Linked DNA regions of Homo sapiens: all the other regions are linked to region 2. The links come from fine-mapping of genetic effects on gene expression. A gene starts in region 2. Each other region holds a variant in brackets. All regions are shown on one strand. Distances are between the middles of the regions.

Region 1 (8,186 bases), 48 kb before region 2:
AGATGGATGTCTAACCACTATGACTGTGGCATCGCCGCCAAGCATCCTCTCCTCCCAGGGCTGCTTGTTCACACTGTCAGCTGCTATAACTTTATTGCCATGACAACTTGATGTGTAACCCAGTGACATGACACTGAATTGGATGCAACAGAAAGCAGTTCACTGGGGATGCTGGGTTCACTATGACTCAATACTAATGCTTGCTCTTAAGTTGCTTCTCTTTGCCTGACCCCAGGGTGGCAATAAAGAAAGCAATCACAAACTTCTGAGCAAACAAAAAAATTCTGGGTGGCCCCTGCTATAGGAATATGAAACTAGAAGAATGTGTCCCCAGAGACACCCAGGACTTGTAACAACCAAGAATAAGGGTGAGAGCTTCTATTCCATCTTGTTTTCCTGCTTTCTTAACACCTTAGCCTATGCATAAACTAGAAAGACAACTTCTGCTTCGGGAACTATCGTGTAGAAGTGGGAGGTGGAAAGTGACACTGAAAGTTTGAGGGGCAACTATACAGAATTTATACTATTTTTAAGTCTTGACTTAAAATAAGTTAGACTTGAATATACAAAGAAAGCCTATTTTATCTGAAGATTAAAGCAATTTTAAAATAAGACTCAATCTCCATTCCAGTTCTCTCAAGCAGTTTCCCTATAAAGCCACAGTTATTTGTATTTTATTAAAACACAACACCAAAACAACTGCATACTGCCACAAATACTCAGGAAAGGGCACTGAGACGTAGCTCTCATGTTTGCTGAGTCTTCTTTCCTACATAGGGTCACAACGGTACAGCATATGGACTTTGATAGAGTAGAGAAAGGGGTTTGAGGACTGGTTCTGCTAACTCCATGCTTCTGAAGCTCAGAAAGGTGAAAATTTCTCCATAAAAAGTTTCTTTGTAAAATGAGGGTAATAATAACATTCTCATAGATATTTTTCTAAACTTAACACAAAATAATACATGGAAAGCACTTAGGGCTCTCCGGGCACACAGAACCATCAGCAGAACCATTCTGCTCATTAGAGATAATAGTAACTGTGAACTTTTATTGTGTGCCTCCCATATGGTATCTACTGAGCTCTCACAGAAGAAGAGTCCCCAATAAGCTTTCCTAAAGAAAAGAGGGAGCCTATGCCCTTGGGAGTTTAGATCTAATTTCCCAAGGGAACATCTAAAAGACTTTCCTACTCATCCTAGGCATTGAAAAGTAAAGATATCAATACTGAGGCTCCTTGCCTCAGTTTCAAATAAATGGCCACAAGGTGTCAAGGAGCAATGGCTGCCTTTTCTGATTTGATCAGATCTGACTGCCCAACATCTCAGGGTCAGTCTACTTCAATGATACAGAAGCAAAGTACAGAAAGCACAGGAAGGATGGGTCACATTCTGTTCCTCTGTACCTACACAAAGTCAGTCTATGGGCGTAGTTGGCTCCTCAATCTCACAACTTGCCTCTCATGGTATTTTCTCTTCTTTGTAGACTGAAACCCTACTCTACTCCCTTAAGGAGCTAACAACCTGCTTACCCAAGAACCACAGTGCTCTTAAACTAACTACAGTTGCTAACATACATTTAAGTCCCCAAAATCATCTTCCACTGTTTCTTATCTCCTCACAAGTTTTCATTTTCAGGATCTTCATTAATAAAAATATAGTATGATTAGTCCTCCTTTATAGATAAAACTGAAATATATGGACTCATGTCATCTGACTCCAATATTTGTGCTCTTTCACCAAAAAAAAAAAAAAAGCATGTCATATTCAATGTAAACTTTTACCCTTAAGTCTGAACAAATACTACATTGGAATACCATTCTCAATACATCTTCTATAGGCAAAAGTTAATAACTTCTATATAGAAGTCATAGAAAGGCAACTTACTAGCATCTTTAGCCTCGTGAACAAGTCACTTAACCTCTTAAATCTTTGTTTCTTCATTTATAAAAGGGGATCATAATGTCTAAATAAATGGGCTGAGTTAGGAAGTAGGGAGACATGGTAGAATCTATTTTGCCTGCTGCAGAGGTAAACAAAAGTCATTAAACAAGGGGATGAACATCAGCTGAATCACTGGGTTGAATGAAATGTCTCTTCGTAGGTGTAAAGACCTGATAAATTCTGCCCTTTGGCTAAATGCAGTCAATCAGGAGAGAGGCACTGTTCTCAAATTTTATATTTATATATATGTATAAGCATCTACATATAGATCTGAGGTAGACCGAGAGTTGCATTCTGCAGGTTTGGTCTAAGAATATCAAAGAAAACACCTTTTTCCCTGAGCAAATCTGATTTTATTTCTTTAACTGAATGAGAGCTTGAACTAACAGGGAAAGAGGAAGGAGGGGGACAGGAGAGCAGCAGGCCCTTAAATAAAAGTCTGGGTGATTTTATCACTATTATCACAATAAAGTTTTATATCTAGGTACCCCGGCTCCTAAATTAACTGTCAAATACAATCCTGCACTGGAAACCTGAAGCGTGGCTGCTATGGGGGAGTCCTGACAGCTTCACTCCTCTCTCCAGGTTCGCTGTGTAATCAGCCCTTCAAGCTTTTGGCAAAGAGTATACTATCAAGTCTCCTGTCAGTGCAGAGAGGAGCTGGAGCAGGAGGAAGAAGACATCACAAAGTGTTAATTTTATTAAGCCATTTAAAGCTCAATCCCTCTGCTTTGTAACAATGCTCCAGTCCACCAGGCAGCTTGGAAACCATGCCCACCTTAGTTTTTAAATGACTATAATCTATTGGTGCTGTGGTTCAATTAGGAGGTCTGGGGCTCCAGTAAGAAAGAGAAGGATAAGGTAAAGCTGCAGGGGAAGGGAGAAGAGGAGGTAGGGAGTGAAGAATCTCAGTAGCGTTTACTTTAAAGTGGGAATATATTTCCTAATGTGTTTCTTAAATAACTTTAAGTAAAGTTATTCCTAAAATAACTTCTTTATTTTTCTTATAGTTGGGCACCAAGCAGTTCTGCTAACTAGGGAGTCTGCTTCATAACAATAAACATACTTGCTTCAATGCATTGATTTCTTCTTTCTATTGGGAATATATGGACACACAACTACACACTCCCAAGGCAGATACATTTGCTTTGACTTGAACAGGCAACAGACCTATGCTGAACTACTGCCAGTTACTCTGCAGCCAGGCAAGTTCACTCACAGAGTGAGTGAGCCAACAAACCACACACCAAGGGATCCCAAAAGTGGAGACTGAACTCAATTTATTTGCAAGTCATTATCACTCAAACAGGTATCAATGGCCCTTTAAAACATGCAATTGGTGTCATTATTCCTAGGAAGTGTTAATTGATCAAAGCATAGAATTATTTATAAACAGGTGGCTTATTTTTCTCTACAAGGCTTGGAAGGTTTCTGGAACTTTGTGGGGAGGAAGGTGCCCTCACGTACCCTTGCCCTTCTGCTGGAAGTAAGGGTTATTCTCCGGACTGGAGGCTAACAGCAGCCACAATTTATAGGAGGCTGTACTCTGCACTTTTTTTGAAACAGGATCTCACTATGTTGCCCAGGCTGGAGTGCAGTGGTACAGCCATGGCTCACTGCAGCCTCGATCTCCTGGGGTCAAGAGATCCTCCCACCTCAGTCTCCCAAGTAGCTGGGACAATAGGCATGTGCCTCTATGCCTGGCTAATTTTTTTTTAATTTTTAGTAGAGATGGGGGGTCTCCTTAATGTACTCAACACTTTAAAAGGATTATCTCACTTATTTTCCCAACAACCTATGAAATATGTACTATTATTCCCTATTTTGGAACTGAAAAAAAAAAAAACAAAAAATCTGAGAAATGAAGAGATTAAGCACAGATTTGCCCAAGGTCAGATAGCATTGAGCTGATAGGGCAATTCCTGAACTTTTAATAATTGTAGTATACTGCCTCCTCCTGTCAGAGGCCAACATCAGGTTTTTAACCCTCATCCCTGTCAGGAAGAGAAAAGGAAAAAGAAAATTAATATTCACTGCTGACACTTCAAGTGAATGGTTGAAAAAACTGATTCAGGCAGTAATCTTGTTCTCTTTCAACAGTTTTATTGAGATATAATTCACATATTTTACAATTTACCCATTTAAAGTATACAATTTTGTGGTTTGTAGTATATTCCCAGAGTTGTGCAACTATCATTACCATTGGTTTTAAAACATTTTCATCACCCCCAAAAGAAACCCCATTGCTATTAGCAGTCACCCCACATTCCTCCACCTCCCTCAGTCCCATACAGTATTGAGTCTCTTTCTATCTCTATATATTTGCCTATTCTGAACATTTCATATAGATAGAATCATATATTTGGTCTTTTGTGAATAACTTCTGTCAGTAACTACTGATGGGGTTCAAGATATGCTATCCCAAAATATGACTGTAGGAGGCCAGAATATTCCATCCCAAAATACGCCTCTTTGGCAGAAGAATTGTTTTGAGCTGATTATTTGGAGAAACTGCAAATACAGGAGAAGTACTGAAAACAAGGGAAGTTACCCTTTTGTAAGAGAAATGTACATCTGTAAAGGAAATCTCCATTTGCAGGGTTGTCTCCCTCTCTATACCAGGAAGAGAAGGATGACTTCCAATCACTAGAAACTCTTTTATGTTATAAATGGAGAAGGCACCAACTTAAATCTGCATAATAAACTTTACCTTTGTTTACTATGCTTTTCCTGGGCATCTCCCCATAACTAGCCTTCCCTTCCATGGTATTCATGCCTGAACTCAAAGCTACCTCTTTGGGATTTACTTATCTTCCCTTAGGTATCACATGCACACACGAGGTATATATGTTAATAAACTTGTTTTTCTCTTGATAATCTGTCTTTGTTAAAAGGGTTTGTCTCAACTAAGAATGCTGAAGGGTAGACAGGAAAATTATTGTTCAGAATCCCAGTTTTCTAAATTGAGGTTCAACAATGGAACAGGATTCAAATGATAAAATTGTATCCATTTATAAGAGATAACCTTAGGTGAAAAAGGTAGGATACAAAGCTCTCTCT[C/A]TATATATATATAAAGCAAACTAAATATGGCCTGAAAAGGACTCTGTAATTCTATATTTGAGTCCTTGTGGATGAACTGTAACCTAACTTAATAGACAAGATTGAAAACTTAATTTAGGAGTATGCGCCTGTAACAATCACTGAGTCTTCGCCAATCCCAGCAGCCATATTTCATCCAGTCACACACTGCTGAGGGTTCAAACTGTGTGCAAATAAGGCAACTGCTGAACTGTAATGAATCCAGCTGTTTCTGTACCTCACTTCCAATTTCTGTATGTCATTTTACTTTTTTTTGGTCTATAAATTTGTTCTGACCACAAGGCATCCCTGGAGTCTCTCTGAATCTGCTGTGATTCTGGGGGCTGCCCGATTCACAAATTGTTCATTTTTCAATTAGACTCCTTTAAATTTAATTCAGCTGACGTTTTTGTTTAAACAAATGGTGTCAGAAGTGGGGTCTGAAGTATAGCTTCTAACGACCCCCAGGAGTGCTGAGTGAACAAGTAAGGTGCCCACAGGATCCACTTGTGTCCTCTGATCTCTCAGAGTAGCTGGGGAGTGTAAGTTGTCTCTTGGATTTTGGAGCCCCACGGATTTGCATTTTGAGCTCTCCGAGTTTCTTTGAGCAAATTTCTGAACCAAACTGGGTTTGGAAGTCATGACGGAAACTGGGCTGGGTCCAGGAATGGATTTGGTCTGGTAATTAATTGGCTTGGATCCAGTTAGAGGCCTCTTACATCTGACTGGGTCAGAAAGAAACTGACAGCAAATGGTAATATTTTAGGGGTATAAAATTTAGCTCTTAAAGATTTGCAAGGATTTTTTTGTTTCATCCCTTTGTTTCATTTTTCTTGCCCACTTAGGTAGGAAAAATCATTGGCTAGGTTAATCAAGGGAATCTGAGAGCAAAGCCAATATTTTATGTAAAAATGGGATACATAACTTCTGAAAACCTGAGTTCCTTCTGGCTTATGCATTAGGCACAGGAGGCAGCAAAGTCTCACAGAAAATGACAAAATCTTACTAAAGGTAACTTACAGTAGAATGTTCTGAATAAACAACAATGCACTGAAGTGCATTTACAAATGAGAGCCTCCAAAAATTAAATCTGCTAATCTTTCAGCTTAGTTACTATCCCCATCCAAAGGAAATAAACTGCAGCACCAATTGGCTGACTTTGGATAAGTAATGGGGTACGTTTTACCTGAGTAAAGGAAGGGATTGGGGTAGAGGTCCTCCTCTCAGTAAAGTTCTTTTTTTTTGGGGGGGGGGCATGGCAACATCAGTGCATGTTTATTTATTTATTTTAATGTGTTTTCATTTTTTATTTATTTTTTATTATTATTATATTTTAAGTTTTAGGGTACATGTGCACAATGTGCAGGTTAGTTACAGTTGTATACATGTGCCATGCTGGTGTGCTGCACCCATTAACTAGTCATTTAGCATTAGGTATATCCCCTAATGCTCTCCCTCCCTCCTCCCCACACCCCACAACAGTCCCCAGAGTGTGATGTTCCCCTTCCTGCGTCCATGTGTTCTCATTGTTCAATTCCCACCTGTGAGTGAGAATATGCAGTGTTTGGTTTTTTGTTCTTACGATAGTTTACTGAGAATGATGATTTCCAATTTCATCCATGTCCCTACAAAGGACATGAACTCTTCATTTTTATGGCTGCATAGTATTCCATGGTGTATATGTGCCACATTTTCTTAATCCAGTCTATCATTGTTGGACATTTGGGTTGGTTCCAAGTCTTTGCTATTGTGAATAGTGCCACAATAAACATACATGTGCATGTGTCTTTATAGCAGCATGATTTATAATCCTTTGGGTACATACCCAGTAATGGGATGGCTGGGTCAAATGGTATTTCTAGTTCTAGATCCCTGAGGAATCGCCACACTCACTGACTTCCATAATGGTTGAACTAGTTTACAGTCCCACCAACACTGTAAAAGTGTTCCTATTTCTCCACATCCTCTCCAGCACCTGTTGTTTCCTGACTTTTTAAATGATCGCCATTCTAACTGGTGTGAGATGGTATCTCATTGTGGTTTTGATTTGCATTTCTCTGATGGCCAGTGATGATGAGCATTTTTTCATGTGTCTTTTGGCTGCATGAATGTCTTCTTTTGAGAAGTGTCTGTTCATATCCTTTGCCCACTTTTTGATGGGGTTGTATTTTTCTTGTAAATTTGCTTGAGTTCATTGTAGATTCTGGATATTAGCCCTTTGTCAGATGAGTAGGTTGCAAAAATTTTCTCCCATTTTGTAGGTTGCCTGTTCACTCTGATGGTAGTTTCTTTTGCTGTGCAGAAGCTCTTTAGTTTAATTAGATCCCATTTGTCAATTTTGGCTTTTGTTGCCATTGCTTTTGGTGTTTTAGACGTGAAGTCCTTGCCCATGCCTGTGTCTTGAATGGTATTGCCTGGGTTTTCTAGGATTTTTATGGTTTTAGGTCTAACATGTAAGTCTTTAATCCATCTTGAATTAATTTTTGTATAAGGTGTAAGGAAGGGATCCAGTTTCAGCTTTCTACATATGGCTAGCCAGTTTTCCCAGCACCATTTATTAAATAGGGAATCCTTTCCCCATCTCTTGTTTTTGTCAGGTTTGTCAAAGAACAGATAGTTGTAGATATGCGGCGTTATTTCTGAGGGCTCTTTTCTGTTCCAATGATCTATATCTCTGTTTTGGTACCAGTACCATGCTGTTTTGGTTACTGTAGCCTTGTAGTATAGTTTGAAGTCAGGTAGCATGACACCTCCAGCTTTTCCTTTTGGCTTACAATTGACTTGGTGATGCGGGCTCTTTTTTGGTTCCATATGAACTTTAAAGTAGTTTTTTCCAATTCTGTGAAGAAAGTCATTGGTAGCTTCATGGGGATGGCATTGAATCTATAAATTACCTTGGGCAGTATGGCCATTTTCACGATATTGATTCTTCCTACCCATGAGCATGGAATGTTCTTCCATTTCTTCGTATCCTCTTTTGTTTCATTGAGCAGTGGTTTGTAGTTCTCCTTGAAGAGGTCCTTCACGTCCCTTGTAAGTTGGATTCCTAGGTATTGTATTCTCTTTGAAGCAATTGTGAATGGGAGTTCACTCATGATTTGGCTCTCTGTTTGTCTGTTATTGGTGTATAAGAATGCGTGTGATTTTTGTACATTGATTTTGTATCCT
Region 2 (8,186 bases):
TAGCAAACCAGGACTAGAATTTTTTTAAACTGATAAAACATATCTATTTTCAAAAACCATAGAACATATCACTTATTTGTGCAATGTTATCAATTACTGCTAGACTAGGAACAAGGCCAGAATACCCACCAACCACATCCATTCAACATAATACTCGGGGTGCTATCCAATGCAGTAAGGCAAGAAAAAACAAATAACAGATATAAGGATTGAAAAGAAACAAACAAAAAGTATCTCTCTTCACACATAATACAATCAGGTATGTAGAATAAATCTACAGATAAATTATTAGGATATGTAAGATAATTCAGCAGATAGATCACAAAAAAACAATATATAAAAGTTAATCATATTCCTATATTCAATTAGAAAACAAAACTTAAAACCATTTATTTTTATTTTAGAGATAGGGTCTTGCCGTGTCGACCAGGCTGGAGGGAAATGGCAGGATCATAACTCACTGCAGCCTCAAACTCCTAGACTGAAGCAATCCTCCCACCTCAGCCTTCCATATAGCTGACAGGTGTGAGCCACTGTGCCTGGCTCATATTTTCTACAATATTATAAAATTATGAAGTATCTAGGAATAAATTTTACAATGATGTGAAAAATCTTTGAGGAAAAAAATATAAAACTTAACTGCGAAGCAATAAAAAAGACCTAAATTAATGAATCAGAAGACTTCATGTTGTAATGATATTAATTCTCCCTATATTGGCTTATAAATTTAATATCCAAATACACTCCTGCAGGCTTTTTAATACTATGATTCTAAGAAATGTAAAGTGCCAAAACTGGCCAACACACTCTTGTAGGACAAGATGGAAGGACCTGCTTTACCAGATATTAAGACATATTATAAAGGGATAACTGAGAAAACATGCTGTTCACACAGGGATATACTAACAGATAAACAGTAGAGAACAGAAGAACCAAGAAACACATTCACACATATTATGGGCACTTGATATATGACAGTGGGACAGCAAATCAGTGCACAAAGGAAGGGCTTTTCAATAAATACAGCAATAGCAATTGGCCATCTGTATGGAGAAAAAATGAAATTGCGCCCCTACTTCTACTACACAAAAATCAATACTAAGTAGAACAAGACACAAAAAGCACTAACCATAAGGAAAAGTATTGATAAGTTTTACCACATTAAAATGAAGAGCTTCTATTCAAGGCACAACTTCTTTAAAAAGAAAAACCACATAGAAGATATTTGCAACCCACATAGAAAGAACAACAAAAAAAATCAGAAACAAATATATAGCTGGGCACAGTGGCTAACACCTATAATCCCAACACTTTGGCAGGCAGATCACCTGAGGTCAGGAGTTCAAGACCAGCCTGGTCAACATGGCAAAAACATCTCTACTAAAAAAAAAATACAAAAATTAGCTAGGCATTGTGGCATGTGCCTGTAATCCCAGCTACTCAGATGGCTGAGGCAGGAGAATCGTTTGAACCTGGGAGGCGCAGGTTCCAGTGAGCTGAGATCTAGCCACTGTACTCCAGCCTGGGCAACAGAGCAAGACTCTATCTCAAAAAAAAAAAAAAAAAAAAAAAAAACAGATATATAAAAACTCATATAATGAGAAAAGACAACTCAATAGAAAAATGGGCAAAAGAACTGACTAGGTACTTCACAGAGGAAGTATAAAAGATCCTCAAAGTCATTAGTAATCAGAGGAATGAAAATTAAAACCACAATAAAATACCATTACATAGCCACAAGATTGACAAAAATGAAAAATACAGTAATAGCAAGTTTTGAAGATACAGAGCAACAGGAACTCTCATATACTCTTCATAGTGATTCAAACTGGTACAACCACTCTGGAAAATAGTTGGCAACATGTAGTATTACTGAAGATATGCATAGCCTCTGACACAGCAATTTCACTCCTGCGTTTATATTCCACTTAAATGTATGTTAAATGTACACCGAGACATGACCAAGAATATTTACACTGACATTGTTTGTAACAGCCCGACGCTCCCAAACCTGGGAACAAATCAAATGACCATCTATGACAGAATAGATAACTTGTGGCATATTCATAAAATGGAATTCGAAATAGTAATGAAAGTGAATAAACTACAGTCACTCATAGGATGACTCTCACAAACACAATGTTGAGAAAATGAAGCAAAACCCAGAAGAATGCATGATAAAAATATGACACCCATAGTGTCAAGTTCAAATAAGTTTAGGAATGCATACACATGGAGTAAAAGCATAAAGGTAAGCAAGGAAATGATCACAGAAGTCAAGATTATGCTTACTTATGCAGAAGAGAGATGGTTATAATTGGAAAAGGTATGGGGAAAAGGCTTCAATATTGCTAGTAATGTTCTATTTCTTAATCTGGATGGAGACTACCTCAGTACTTGTTTTATAATTATTTGTTAGACTGTAAGTTTTTACACACTTTCTGAATGTGCATTTTACAATTATAAATAGGCACTAAAAAAGGGAAAACCTAATACAGAGGATCTTCACTCTCAAGGTATTTGTTATCCCAATGCCAGCTATTCCCTATTCAGGGAAGCAAAAGTCATCATAATATGACAATGTTCACTAATACAGATTACTTAATGAACTGATCACTCCACTCAAAATTTCCCCCTCCCTCCCCGATTAACACCAGCAGTTTCTCTCAATGATAGTAAACATCCACAATATGAATAAAAGGTGCATCGTCTGCAAATTCATTCATTCAACAAATATTTCCGAAGTGTCCACTGTTCTGGGGGACCAGTAAGGTCCACGACAGACAAAGATCCAGACAGAGGACATGGGAACTTCCACTCCCACCCCAATTTGGCCTCCATCTTCTTACCCTCCTTTTCTACTAAGTTTCAAACACGAAGAATCTAAAATGAACTCGGGGCACATATGAAGTTACTATTAAAACTATTTTGTTAGTCTTTTCAATGCAGACGTATCACTTGCTTGGATTCATGTGGCAAAATCCTATTTCCCATGTTTTCAAGTAGGCAAAAAGATTGCCTTATCAAGAGCCCTAGCACAAAGCACCAGTTTCAACAATAGTGATGCTGTGGAAATTGGCCTAAGTGGGGTCAAAACTCCCAAGAAATGCTTTACCTGGGATCCACAGACCAGAAACTTGCAATTTTCTAGAAATTGTATACTAGATTTTGTGTGTATTTTCTCAGGTCAGAGTCCAGAACTTTCATCAGATTCTCAAAAGAGTTCAACCAAAAACGGTGAATAAGAACTGCTCCCAAAAAGTTGGAAAGACTAGCTTCTTAGGGACACAGTGAAAGCGAATGTGGTCACAGCCAGGCCACCTGAGTTGAAACCCAGGTGTCCTGACCCCTAGGTTTATGCTCTGAAGGCCCAATACTTACTCTTAATTCTTCAAAGGCTTCGTCTAGGGTGGAGAGTTGGTGGCCCTGGTGAGCCCCAATGACTGGACACAGGACACAGATGAGCTGCCTATCTTCCTGGCAATAGGTACTCAAATCAAGCCCATGGTCCGGACACTTCCTCTTGGCCACTCTCTCTGCTTCCATTTCTATTTCTGGGTCAAATTCACTTTCTGCCTCAGTTTCTCCCTCCGCCTCGGATTCCCCTTCTTCTTGGTTGTCTTCTTCGGCCTCGCTTTCTTGCTCATCCTCCATTTCTTCCTCGCTGTCTTCTTCACTCTCCTCATCGCTCTCATCCTCACTCTCTTCCTCTGTCTCGCTCTCTTCCTCTGACTCGCTCTCTTCCTCCGACTCACTCTCTTCCCCTGCCTCGCTTTCTATCTCCCTCTCCTGCTCCACCTTGACCTCCGCTTCTTCCTTCCCCGCCCCCTCTCCGTCAGCTGGCGGGGTCCAGGCCTGGGAGCCGTGGACGTATTCGGCCAGATGGTGACTGAGGAACTTCTGCCTGTGCGCCTCGGCATGGCGGCGGCAGTAGCAGAAGCCGCATTCTCGGCACACTTCCTCGGCCCCCGGAGCCTCGTCGGGCTCGCACTCGTCACACGTGCCGTCGTGAGGCAGTTCCTCGAAGGCCGCGCCCACTCCAGAGGCCATGTGGGTGCTGTGACGCGGCCAAGGCCTCGGGGCCCCGGGGCTCGCCGCCTTCCTTCCGCGCGGCCTCACTTCCTCCTCCCGCCCCGGGTCCCTTCCTAGGGAGTCGCCTCCCGCCTGGACCGCGCCGCGTCTCGAAGCGGGACCTGGGGCCGCGGCAGCCCCTGCCCGGGCGCAGCAGCAAAGACCCTTTCCGCCGGCTCGGCCTGCTCCGCTCTGTCCCTGCGCTTCCTCTGCCGCGCAAGGCACTTCCGGCGCGGCCACCCGGCGCCCCCGTCGGCCCCCGCGTCGCGCCGCCCGCTCAGCCTCCCGCTACCAGGGAGAGATCGCGGCAGCCGCCGGCCCCCGCGCCGCCCCGGTTCCACTTTCCCTTTCCCCGTCAGGAGGCCTCCTTTTACTTCCTGAGTCATTTAAAGTGGCAATGACCCTTTTCTGCTTTTCCCGCGGGGCTCAGCTCCTCCGCTCCAAATCTCAGCGTGCCTTGGAGGAGGAGGAGGGAGAAGGAGGATGGAGGAAGTCTCTTACTCTCTCCAGAAGCAGGAATTGGGCTCCACCTCCCCCATTCCCTCCCTGGAAGTGTCAACTTGAGTTTTCACGGCCACTAGGCTGGTGTCCCTGTGCATTTCAGTCTCTCTTGTGCCAATTTGTCGCCGCCCGTCACAGTCCCCAGTGTTCTGCAAGGTGCCCGGACAGTGTTGTTTACCAGACTGAACCTGACCTCTTGGGATTTCCTGAGTGCGGAAGGGCTATGTTTGTTCTAGGCTAGGGGAATTGGAGTTAGGATGAGCAAACAAATATTTTCGATCCAAAGCAATACTGTGCTTTGTCTATTTGCATTGCTACCTCCTAGGATCTCAGAATTTCTGGGGTGGTAACCTCTGTGCGGTTTTCTGAGAGCTGCCTTCGGTTGGGCAGAGACGTCAGGTGAAGTGAGGTGGGGAGAGGCAGTATTTGTCGAGTGACAGGTCCAGGTTGCAGTCATTTTCCTTTATGTAAGGTGTCCCTCTAGATTCCCACTGGGCTCTAAGAGAAAAGAAGGGAACTGTTGTTTATAAAGCAGTACTGTAGTGCCAAGAACCCGGCTACATCTTTTTGTGGCTCTTTAAAAGCCGGTTTTGGAAGATCCTCTGCCCGATGGTCCCCAAATCCTGGTGCCACTACCTATCAGTTTTATGACCATGGACAAGTTAATTCATCATTCTGTTTTCCGCTTTTTAAAAAAGATGTTAAGTGAAAAGAACGGTAAATATCTACCTCATGGGGTAGTTTTGTGGATTAAATGTAACGATGCCTGCACTGTAGAGTATTCACTAAGCTTTCATTATTATTTTTGGCACAAATTATATTTAGTGCTCACAATGCCCCTTTGAAGGAACATATTTTACACACACAGGGCATTTTCGGCTGGCTGCTGGTAATGTAGGCAAGTCTCCACCTCTACCCCATATCCATGTCTCTCCATTCACAGAAGAGTTTTTGTTTTGCACTGTATTTGGGAGAGGGAAAATTACGTTTTTATCTAGTCAAGGGAGAGGCTGAGGTGTATTAAGAAGGATGAAAGGGGATGGAATGGTGTCTGTTTTACATTGATTCCCTTAGATGATTTTGAGTTAGAATTTCCAGATGCTTTCCTCAAACATACCAGGGGATGAGGTGGGGTAAAAAAACCTTTTTAATAGTTTTTAATGTCTCCATGGATAATGTATGCCTAATCTTTGTGCAGCTTTTGTTAGATATTTATTTTTTAGAAACCTTTCTTTTTAACCTCAGAACAATTCTATACAATGTTGAAAAAAATCAGGTTTATTTTGTTCCAATTCCATACACATTTCTGTTTTCCCCCAGCTCATTTCTCTGGAAATTATTTCTGTGTCTGCTTTTGAAACATGAATTGAAGCACCATTCTGAAAAAAAAAATTCAACAAATGTCAACTCAAACATCAACGTTAATATACCTAATGAGAAGTGTGCCTTGCTTGGTTATTTCTACTCCTGTCCTCCCCCAGGCTTAAAAGGAAACAACTTAGCCTTTACAAACATAACGTTCTCACATTTAGAAAGTCTTTTATTCAATGAAAATAATTTTTATTTTTTTTATTTATTTTTTTTTTTGGTGACAGGGTCTCTCTCTGTTGCCCAGGCAGGAGTGCAGTGGTTCAATCACAGTTCACTGCAGCCTCAGCCTCTTGGGCTCAAGCAGTCCTCCCAAGTGCCTCCCAAGTAGCTAGGACCACAGGCGTGAGCCACTAAGCCCCACTACTTGTTTTGGTATTTTTTGTAGAGACGGGGTCTCACTATGTTGCCCAGACTGGTCTTGAACTCCTGGACTCAAGTGATCCTCCCACCTCAGGCTCCCAAAGTGCTGGGATTATAGGTGTGAGCCACAGGCCTGGCCTTTTTAATATCTTAAAAGGACATTGTTGTATCCAGGGTATTTGATGAGGGGAGGGGGAGTCATGTCATCATTATTGTTATTACTGTTTCTTCTTAATGTTATCTGACAGAAAGTTAAAATATAATACTGTGCAGTTCAGTATCTGACACTTTACAATTCTTCTTGAGCACTCTGTGGAGAAAGGGTCTTAGAGGCAGACAGATTAAACTTTTTTTTTTTAAGATGGAGTCTTGCTCTTTTGCCCAGGCTGGAGTGCGTTGGCACGATCTTGGCTCACTGCAACCTCTGCGTCCCGGGTTCAAGCGATTCTCCTGCCTCAGCCTCCCAAGTAGCTAGGATTACAGGTGTGTGCCACCATGCCCGGCTACCTTTAGTATTTTTAGTAGAGATGGGGTTTTGCCATGTTGCCCAGGTTGCTCTCGAACTCCTAGACTCAAGTGATCCACCAGCCTCGACCTCTCAAAGTTCTGGGATTACAGGTATGAACCACCACACCTGGCCAGATTAAACTATTAAAAAGGGACTCCATAAATTTCTGGTGACAAGGTGTGGCAGACTCAATGAGGCAGATCTCTGTACCCCTCTGCAGAGAAATCCGAACCATCTGATTCCCCAGGAATTAGTATCTTTGGGAGTGTCCACAAATAGCACCCTTGTTATATTAACCTATTGCTACATAGAAAATGACATCAAAATGTAGCAGCTTAAAACAATAAACATTTATTATCTTACATAGTTTCTGTGAGCAAGGACTCTGGGAGTGACTTAGCTGAGTGGTTCTGACTTAGGGTCTTTCAAGAGATTTTGGTAAAGATGTTGGCTGTGCTATCGTCACTTGAAGGCTTACCTACAAGCATAGAATTTGCTTCCAAGATGGTTCATTCACATGGCTGTTGGCAAAAGGCCTCACCACTTTCTATAGGGCTGCTGGAATGTCTTCAAGACAGGGCAGTTGAATTCTCACAAAGCAAGTGATCCAAGAGAGGGCAAGATGGAAGATGCAATGTCTTTTATAACCTAAGTTCAGAAGTCACACGCCATCATTTCGTACATAGCTTATTGGTTAGAGATTAGCTCTATTCAGTGTGGGCAGAAACTGCACAAGGGCTTGAAAACCAAGAGATGGGAATCTTTGGGGCCATCTTGGAGGTTGGCTGTCACAGTCTGCCCTTTGGCCACCAATGATTCACGTATCTCCCAAATGTAAAATACACTCACTTCTTCCCAAGGTCCCCAAAAGTCTCAACCCATTATATTATCAGTTCAAAGTCTGGAGTCCTGTCATCTAAATTGGGACCAGGTGTGGATGAAGCACTTTGGTGTAGTGTTTTAAGTGCAGATCCTCAAGTATAGTTCATTTGAATGCCTATGTCTCCCACACCCCAACATGCAATGGTGGGACAGGTTTAAGATAACTGGTACAGGCTGGGCGCAGTGGCTCATGCCTATAATCCTAGCACTTTGGGAGGCCGAGGCGGGCGGGTCATCTGAGATCAGGAGTTGGAGACCAGCCTGGCCAACATGGTGAAACCCCATCTCTACTAAAAAAATACAAAAATTAGCCAGGCGTGGTGGTGCATGCCTGTAATCCCAGCTACTCAGGAGGCTGAGGCAGGAGAATTGCTTGAACCCAGGAGGCGGAGGTTGCAGTGAGCTGAGATCACACCACTGCACTCCAGCCTGGGTGACAGAGCAATACTCTGTCTAAAATAAAAATAAAAAAGATTAGTGGTACAGACAGTCC
Region 3 (8,186 bases), 150 kb before region 2:
TGTTATTCACCAATACAAGATGGAATCAGTGCAGCTAGGAGAGAAGAGATTAAGGAAAGAGGCTGTGAAGTCTGCTAGACCTGGGTTTAAATTCTGGCTTCCCGCTTATTAGGGTGTAACCGTGGTCACAGTACTTAATTCTCTAAATTTGATTCCTGAGCAACAAAGTGGGGAATGATAGTATTGGTGCTGTTACTATTATGATAATGTGAAAAACAACAGGAGAGTACCTGGCCCAGAGAAAGAGCTAAGTGACAGCTCTTATTAACATAAATGAATGATTTAAACCTGGAGATTACAATAGTTAACAAGCACAGACACTTAGTGCAGTCTGTTACTGACTTCAAGCAGTCTTTTGCTTTTGTTTCTATTTCTGTGACATCTTCTCTTATTACGACTTTCTGTTGGGTGTCTCTAACTCTGGTGCCTTGTGAAGGCCAGGAGATATTCCAGACAAGCTGAAATTCTACCTTTTTATGAGTATAAAGGAAATGGGGCCATGTTGGACCAAACAAAGAGTAATAAAATAAAATATAGAGTTGTAGCTTTCAGAGGGAAAGATAAAACAAGAAAGGGCTGGGGCAATGGATGTGGTGTTGAGATACTGGCACCAGGAAGCAGGGAAGAAAACCTCCAAACACATTGTGGTTTGTTAAAACACTGAAGACTCCTAAGTGCTACAGTGGCAGGCAGTGCCACCCCACCAGGCAGCAGTGTCCTCCGCAACTGGGGAAGAGGAAGTAGGGCCTAATGATTGCTCTCGGAGACAGAGAGTCTGCTGTCCTGGGCTTTACCAGCCTGGCTTGTTGGGTGACCTTGAGTGACTTATCTCCCTCTCTTGGACAATTTTCTCAAGGTTCTCACACAGTCCCTAGCTAACTAAAAGGGTCTGATGAAGATAAATGTGTTAAAAGAAAATTTAGAGGAGAGTCCACAAACTGTCCCTCCAGATACACCTGCTGGTGGGTTTTAGGATTTTTAAACATTAAATTTTAATGCATTTAGGCAGGGCTTGGTATTTTCTAATTCACACAGTATCTACCATCTTGAGTCTTCACATTTGGCTCCTGAAGGCCTCTGAGTATATGACTTCTGATTTCAATGCAACCTCTGGTCCTTCAAACCAGCTTGGAATTGCTTCATTTACAACTCATTCTATGTTTTCATCAATTACATGCAAATATGTATTTCTAAAGTTTCACAAAACAAAGATTTTGTTGGCCTAACTGTAATTTGCTCTAAAAGACATTTTTTTTTCTAGAAAATATGGCAAAAATTACAATTTTACCTTCCTTCTAGTTCATCCAAATTCTAAAACTTTAATGTTATTTGAAAACATAATTTGGCACCAAGTATTCTTTAGGTTATAATCTAAGTTGCTCATAAAATGTAATCTAGGCCTGGATCATTTTACTTTGAGGAGAAAACTTATCACTAAATAATAATGATCTTAAGTCTGTTCTTTTGCCACTTCCCAGAGCTCTCTCCTAAGGCACTGTGGAAAAGTCAGGAGTAAATTAGACTCCCACATCTAGTAACCAAAACACCATCATCTCCAGCATTACCACAGTCAAGTATGCAGCTCGTCATAAATATTTACACCTTGCAGGGTCCTTTGTGCACAACTCTGAGAGACAAATGGCATTTCCAGTAATAGTTTATTGATTTCCAAATGCACAGGGGCACCAAGTCCGAACATCCTGGGATAGCAGTAAATCTCTCTTACAAAATAATTTACAGTATGAAAATGATATACTGAAACATTAACCCAAACGTGTAATTCCCTTGAAAGATTCAGTGTTCCCTTGTTTAATGTAAAGGGTGGAAGGGGAAGATTCCTAAGGAGGGAATGTGACTGTGCACAGGAAAATAGGCAGAGGACAATGGATTCATTGGTTCTCCCCATTCATGCAGTGTGGCCTGTCACTGTAGAAAGACTGGTCAGGTTTAACCCTCATTAAGTATTAATCTGCTGTCCCCTCAAAGTCATATCAAGCCCAGTATGGGCTCCGTGGCTTTTTTTGCACCAATGTATCCATAAGTGTCTCCACTTATTTTCATTTTTCTGCTCTGGCCCTCGTTCTGCTGTTTCTGGTATGTTCTCAGTTCCAAATTATACTATCTTATCTTACCAGGCAGGCCTCCAGAATCAAGAACTGCCTGAGTCTTATGGTTTCTGGAATGGGACAGGGTAGGGGGCTTCATAAGCACTGCTGGATAAAGGCAATAATAATGAGACTGAAGTCTCCCATATGGGCCTTCTTTTTCTCTTAGAGCTGGGCTGGACTCAATCCATAATGAGATTTTTTTAAACATAAAAATCTGATGTGATCAGCACACAGTAAACGTGCAGTTAATTTTCTTATTGAGAAGCATGTATTGCACAGCCATTATATGAATGTGGAATTTCAGGAATGGCAAGAGAATATTTTCTACTTGGGGAGAGAGGACTTCCTAGACCCTGCCACAACTACAAGGTCATGAATTCTGCATTTGTGCCCTTAGGTCTAACTGGAGTAGTTAGACTCTCAGGTCACCAAAATGGCTGGGCATCCAAGTTTCCCATCTTATTAGACATCCTGGAGGAGGGCTGGAGTGCAATTTCCTTCAGGGCTGTCACTTTGACTCAGTGCCTTAGGAGCTAATGACCTTTGCTAGGGAATTGCTCTTCCTGTAAGCAAGTACCTAAGCCCCAACTATATGGTGACACTTGTAATTAGGGCTGACAGAAATCTTTGAAGTAGTACGCAAGATAATGAAGGGGCTGCTTTGAGTTTTCCTTAGCTCTCAAATATTGTGTGTGTGTGTGCGGACATGTATGTATGTATATACATATACACACATATCACACTTGTCCTTTATATATAGGTACACACTCCCCCGACACACACACTAAAACCAGGAATCAGTAAGAGAGTCCAGATTCACTGGACTTTGAATTGCCACATCCTCACAGAGTACACTGGCGGCTAAGTTTACTAAAATATGAAGATTTCCTTTTCTACAGGAGTGAAGCTGCAGACATTTTCAAATAAAGTTGAGTAGAGAGCAGAACACCCTTCACTTTTACTACTGCTGCAAAGTTCTATATCTTTGAAGGCCAAGAAACACCTTATTTATGGAAGATGGCATGAAAAAGGAAATGTTCTCCTAACTCCTGGGGGTGGGCTCAAGTCAGCAATGTGTACTTAAAGCATCTGCTAAAGGGGAGAAATAAGGCTACCTCAATGCCATTTCTGAGCCCTAACTATAACTGTGAAATGTCATTTTGAAGAAGATTCATAAATTGGGATGGTCAGCACACAGTGGGAAAACCTGAAGTCTTTTTATCCTTCTGTTTTTAGGTGGACCATGGTGTGTGGTACAAAGTGCCTGTCCACAGAATTAGGGGGAGCTGCGTTCAAGATTTGGCTTGAGTATTTCCTAGCTGTATAACTTGAAGCAAATGACTCTTCCACTCCCCATCTGTTTTATTATCTAAGAGACAGCTCAGGGCCTGGCTCATAGTTGTTCCTTAATACAAGTTATTTCCCTTCTTGGGCTGTCAGAGCCGAGACTCCAAGCACTTCTTGGGACTGTCCTGGATTTAATGATATCAAATCAAAGTCCCTCTCAGCATCCAGAAATTCAACATTTGAAAGATAGCCAGAAATTGCTATGAGTATCCGACTGATTCTGGAAACATTCATTACCTGCCTCCCTTGGTGACTTCTCTTTAGGGGTTTCAGCAAACCCTGCCACCTGCACCCAGGCAAGACCCAATTCTGAGCTCTCTAACTTTTACTGACCTGGCAGGAGGGAAGCCTCATCATGCTGGGGCTTAAGGCCAAGCAGCATGCTCCAGCTCTAGGGGAAGGTAGTGCCACTGCAGGAAGCATCCTAGTTCTTACATTGATAAATGCTGCCGGCAGGAACTTAGAAGCCTGGGCAAAAGCTGCTGCACTGTGTTTAATGCTTCCCTGGTTAAAGTTTTATCAGGTACTGAAGACAGCAGGAGTCTATAAAGCAAATCTGAAACGCTTTCTAAGTAAAAGCAAAAGTGCTTTCCTTGAGGATCACAGAGATATGATAAGTTACTGAGACAGGTTGGCAAATATTTTTATATTTCCATTTATATCCACTGCATAAATGCTTGAATTTCCCAAATACTGATTCAAAGTAGTAACATATGATCAGATATGGAGAACCAATGATCTGTCTATTGCTAATATAAGGCTACTATTTGGAGATCAAACAATGATTATTGGGGAAAGACAATACAAGCTTCCAAATCCTAAAATCTTTTTAATCTTCTGATACTTAAATTTTTTCGAGAGTGGCCACTGGTCCTTCTTTTAGGGTACTTTTGTTGGATATGATTGGTGGTTGTAATTAATGGTATGCCAAATTCTCCAGTCTTTGCAGAGATAGGTAAAGCACCAAAATTGTCCTAGCCATTTCTTGGCCATCAGTTTGAGAGAAAAATGCTTTTTTTTTTTTTTTTTT[A/TTTTTA]ACACCTCAAACTCCCCTCAGCCCCAATATCCTGGCATCTTTAGTGAGTCAGGACAATCCTAACCTAGAAGCATATATGCCTGGGAGCTTCCTGGCCTCAAAGGAATAAATCTTTTCACAGCATTCACAGGACTGAAAAATAATATAAATAGGATTCCTACAGTAAACAAGTATTGTTTCTGTTTCAAAACCATCCTGCAAGCATAACAATCAGCTGGTCCTAAAGCCTGTAATACGTACACAGGTCACAGGCAGACAGGCAGGCAGGAAAAGGGATTTCCCCCAGTGCAGGCTCCTTTGGTTCTGCCTCAGAGGCACTAGAAGTCTAGGCCCTGGGTTAACAGCAACCCAGAGTCTGCTTGGATATGGTTCTAGTTGTATGCTTCGTAAGTGAACACCAAAATACCATAAAGGTAGAGGAGAGTGAACACATAACCCACTTGCAAATAAGAATTACCTTGCAAGATTCCTATTTTTTTATCTTAACAGTCTATGCGTATGAACATTTTATTCTATAATATAACTTTTATATAAAAATAGGTCATCTTATGACTCTAAACCATTTGGTAAGTAAAACTGATGCTTCAAGAAGATGCAGGTTTTTAAGTTTGCAGTTTTACATTCCCCTAGTACATCCCTGCTTACTCGGGAGCACAAAGCTTGGTTGTAAGAAATTGTGATTTGGAAGTAGAGAAAAGCAAGGAAGTCCAACCTCAGGAGTGTCTCTGTTACTAAGAGGAGAGTGAGATCCAGGGTGTGGGAGATGATCTGAAGGTCTATGGGTGGGGAGTGCCACAGGAAGAAGGGTTCTGGTCGGAGTTAAAGGAGGATATATCTATATGCTGGGAGATGAGCTGAATTCAGAACACATGGAATGGGAACAATTCTCCCCATACTGCGTTTAAGCCAAATTAGGCTAAAATGGGGGTGGGACTAGCAAAAACCTACAATGGAAATTCCCATTTGGTAATATACATTCCAGCCCTTCACGTTGTGACAAGCCCATAAAACCTGCAGAATTCACCCAAATAATTCTGGTTCTATTAGATCCTTTACTGACTATTTTGGAAATTCAAGCAATTTGAATTCAGAAATACTGATTTCAACTTTTAATCAGACTTCTTTGGTCCTTTTTTTTCCCCCTAAGGTCATTTCCGTTCCACCTCTTCAATCATTTTTTTCATTTCCACAGCACTGAATTATGAATATCAAGTCCTGGATAACTTCATATACTAAAAATATCTCTTCCTCATCTTTAACTCTTTCTCCAACACCTTTTTCCAGTCATCCATCTTAATTCATGGCACCACAATTTTCACAAATGTAGAACTGGACTTTTAGGGACTGTCCACAAGAGTTAATTTGGCCCTACCTTGCTCTCATTTATTTCATGCTTCAATATGAACAAAATTGGGTTTTTGTTAATAGGCAGGGAGAAAACTCTGACTTCCCTTCAAGATTATTCCAGATCCTTCCTAACAAAGCGATACTGTTTGGTAATACAATATTATGGGGGCTGGCTTTCCTGAGTAAGTTCAAAGCAGCCATTGAGGGATTACCTGAAGGACCTTTCTTAATTGCTCCTGGTGGATCAAAGGGGCTCTTTTCCTTGACCTACCACAACCAGGGGATGAGAAGCACACAGTAAGCATAAAACTGGTCATCCCTTGGAGAGATATGTGCCTGCTGTGGATCTGGGGACACATCTGGTGGAAGTACGTTTGTTGCTGAGCAGCTTTCACAGAAATCAGAAGCCGTTACATACACGCTGTCACATACACACAAGGGGAGGGGATGATTTTCCACTGGGGGTAGCAAGCCTTCATGTGTCCTCTTCTTCACTGGCACCACTACAAAGGAAAAGGAGAACCAGGTGAGTTAAGATATCACAAGAAGGGAGGCAGCCTAGTCTACTGGTTGATAGCACAGACTTTATGTCAGACATACCTGGAATTAAGTCTTAACTACCATGATTGAGCAATATGGCCAAAGGCAAGTTACTTCGTTTCTCTAAATTCTGATTTCTTTATCTGGCCATAGGGGGAATGATGATAAAACTTACTTTCTTGAGTTACTAGAGGATTAAATAAGAGAATACATATAAAATGCACAGTACCTGGTATACAGTACGTGAGCAGCTATTTAAAGGAGCAGGTGAGAGTCATAATTCTTTTAAACTTAACTGACAAAATAAATTGCTGGTAAAAATCAGGTGTATGATTTCCTCTAAGCCTTAAGCCATCTACTGTTAGGAGAGAAAAAACAAGGAGAAGCTACTACCATCTGCACTCTCAATGGCACTCTGCACTTGGAAAAAAAATCCAAGATTTCAACTCATGCCATAGGGACATATGCCACCTCGTCAGAGAAGGTACTCTACTAAGTAGGACTCCCTGGTGATTCTCTATCTTATGTCTGTCATAGGCCTTATCACATTACATAATTTATTTGTTTACGATTTACTCTTCTCTCTACCCATGACTACAGCATATAAGAATAGCAACACTTTATTAACTATGTATATCTAGCACTAGCACTGGGCTGGGCACATAGAGGTGCTCAATAAATAATTGGTTTTTAAAAGGAAGTGAAATACAAACAACAGGAAGAAAGGGAGGGAGGGATGGACACAGTTGAAGGGACTGGTCAGTCATTACTGCCCTGGCCAGGTTATTCCAGATGTTAGTGATGTTTCAGTGGTCAAATAGTTGTCAAGTCCCTCAGGCATGGCTAGTACCTCAGCTGCTCAGAGTTACAGCCCCTCTGGCTTGGACCTGGGAGAGAACACTGTTGGTACAGGGACTGGGGCAAGGAGAAGGTAGAGCCTGAAAATGCAGGAATGAGCACACTCAGAAAAGCAAACGTAGCAAACTTGCCTAGTTTCTCCCCATCCTCTTCTATAGGTCACTGCCCTTAAAATAGTAACAAGAGCCAGCTTGAGCAAGTGCTTACTGTGGACCGGGGCACTGAATTACGTGTTACTCACCCATTCTTCCTATTATGTAGGGGCTATTATTATCCCCCGTTTTCCAGATGAAAAAAGTGAAGCTCTAAGAGATGTAAAATCCTAGGGTCACATAGTAAGGTCTGTGTCCTTAAAACTCAAGGTTTAGTTTCAGTTGGATAAAGTCTGAAGTGGTCAAGCTGGTAGAAAAGGAAAAGGCCTGTAGAACATCAGCTCCCAGCTATTACCTAGAAATTTTTCATCTCACAAGGGATTATCTATGTCTATATAAAACCTGTGCTCTTTTGCATCCATCTGGGAAAGACTTTAAGGGAAAATATCCTAGGCAGCAAATTTCTAGAACTTCCACTAAGGGCAGAAACATTTCAAGAAACAGGTCCTGCAAGTTAAGTGTATGCTAGGAGCCAAAAGAACCAACTCAATAATCTTCACCATTCCAAACTCTGCCCTGTTTCCACTCCCCTTTCCTGCTGGTTATACAATCATGGGATGAAGGGTGCATGCTGGAAATGCTGGACAGTGGGCTGTCATTAAGAAGCAGTATTTAATGGCATCTGTCCCAAAGGGAACACAGGGTCTTTTATGAAAGCTTCTCACCAGAATCAAGGCAGAGCTGGAACTGGCGTCATATTCTCCCCCTTTGGTATTACATCCAAAGCAAGCTCTCATTGTTCTCTTGTCAGTTTTATTTCAAATATGAGGGCAGCATGGTGACTCTGCCCTAAGCTGCAGTTCA

What was found.
Region 1: its variant is fine-mapped to the expression of TRIM44 in whole blood (INTERVAL, PIP above 0.99).
Region 3: its variant is fine-mapped to the expression of TRIM44 in whole blood (INTERVAL, PIP above 0.99).

Annotation. Positions count from the first base shown.
Region 1 is chr11:35,707,069-35,715,254 of GRCh38, reverse strand. The region is part of intron 2 of TRIM44 (tripartite motif containing 44); the gene reads right to left. Among named protein-coding and RNA genes, the nearest start is that of TRIM44, 48 kb to the right of the region's middle. The variant C/A (reference allele first, on the strand shown) is at 5,001.
Region 2 is chr11:35,658,976-35,667,161 of GRCh38, reverse strand. TRIM44 (tripartite motif containing 44) reads right to left here and starts at 4,387. Exons shown (of 5, transcript NM_017583.6): 1 at 3,382-4,387. The coding sequence starts at 4,050. RefSeq lists enhancers at 3,699-4,199, 4,411-4,730 and a silencer at 3,991-4,370.
Region 3 is chr11:35,804,507-35,812,692 of GRCh38, reverse strand. It overlaps TRIM44 (tripartite motif containing 44), which reads right to left. Exons shown (of 5, transcript NM_017583.6): 5 at 1-6,335. The coding sequence ends at 6,308. Among named protein-coding and RNA genes, the nearest start is that of LDLRAD3, 140 kb to the left of the region's middle. The variant A/TTTTTA (reference allele first, on the strand shown) is at 4,486.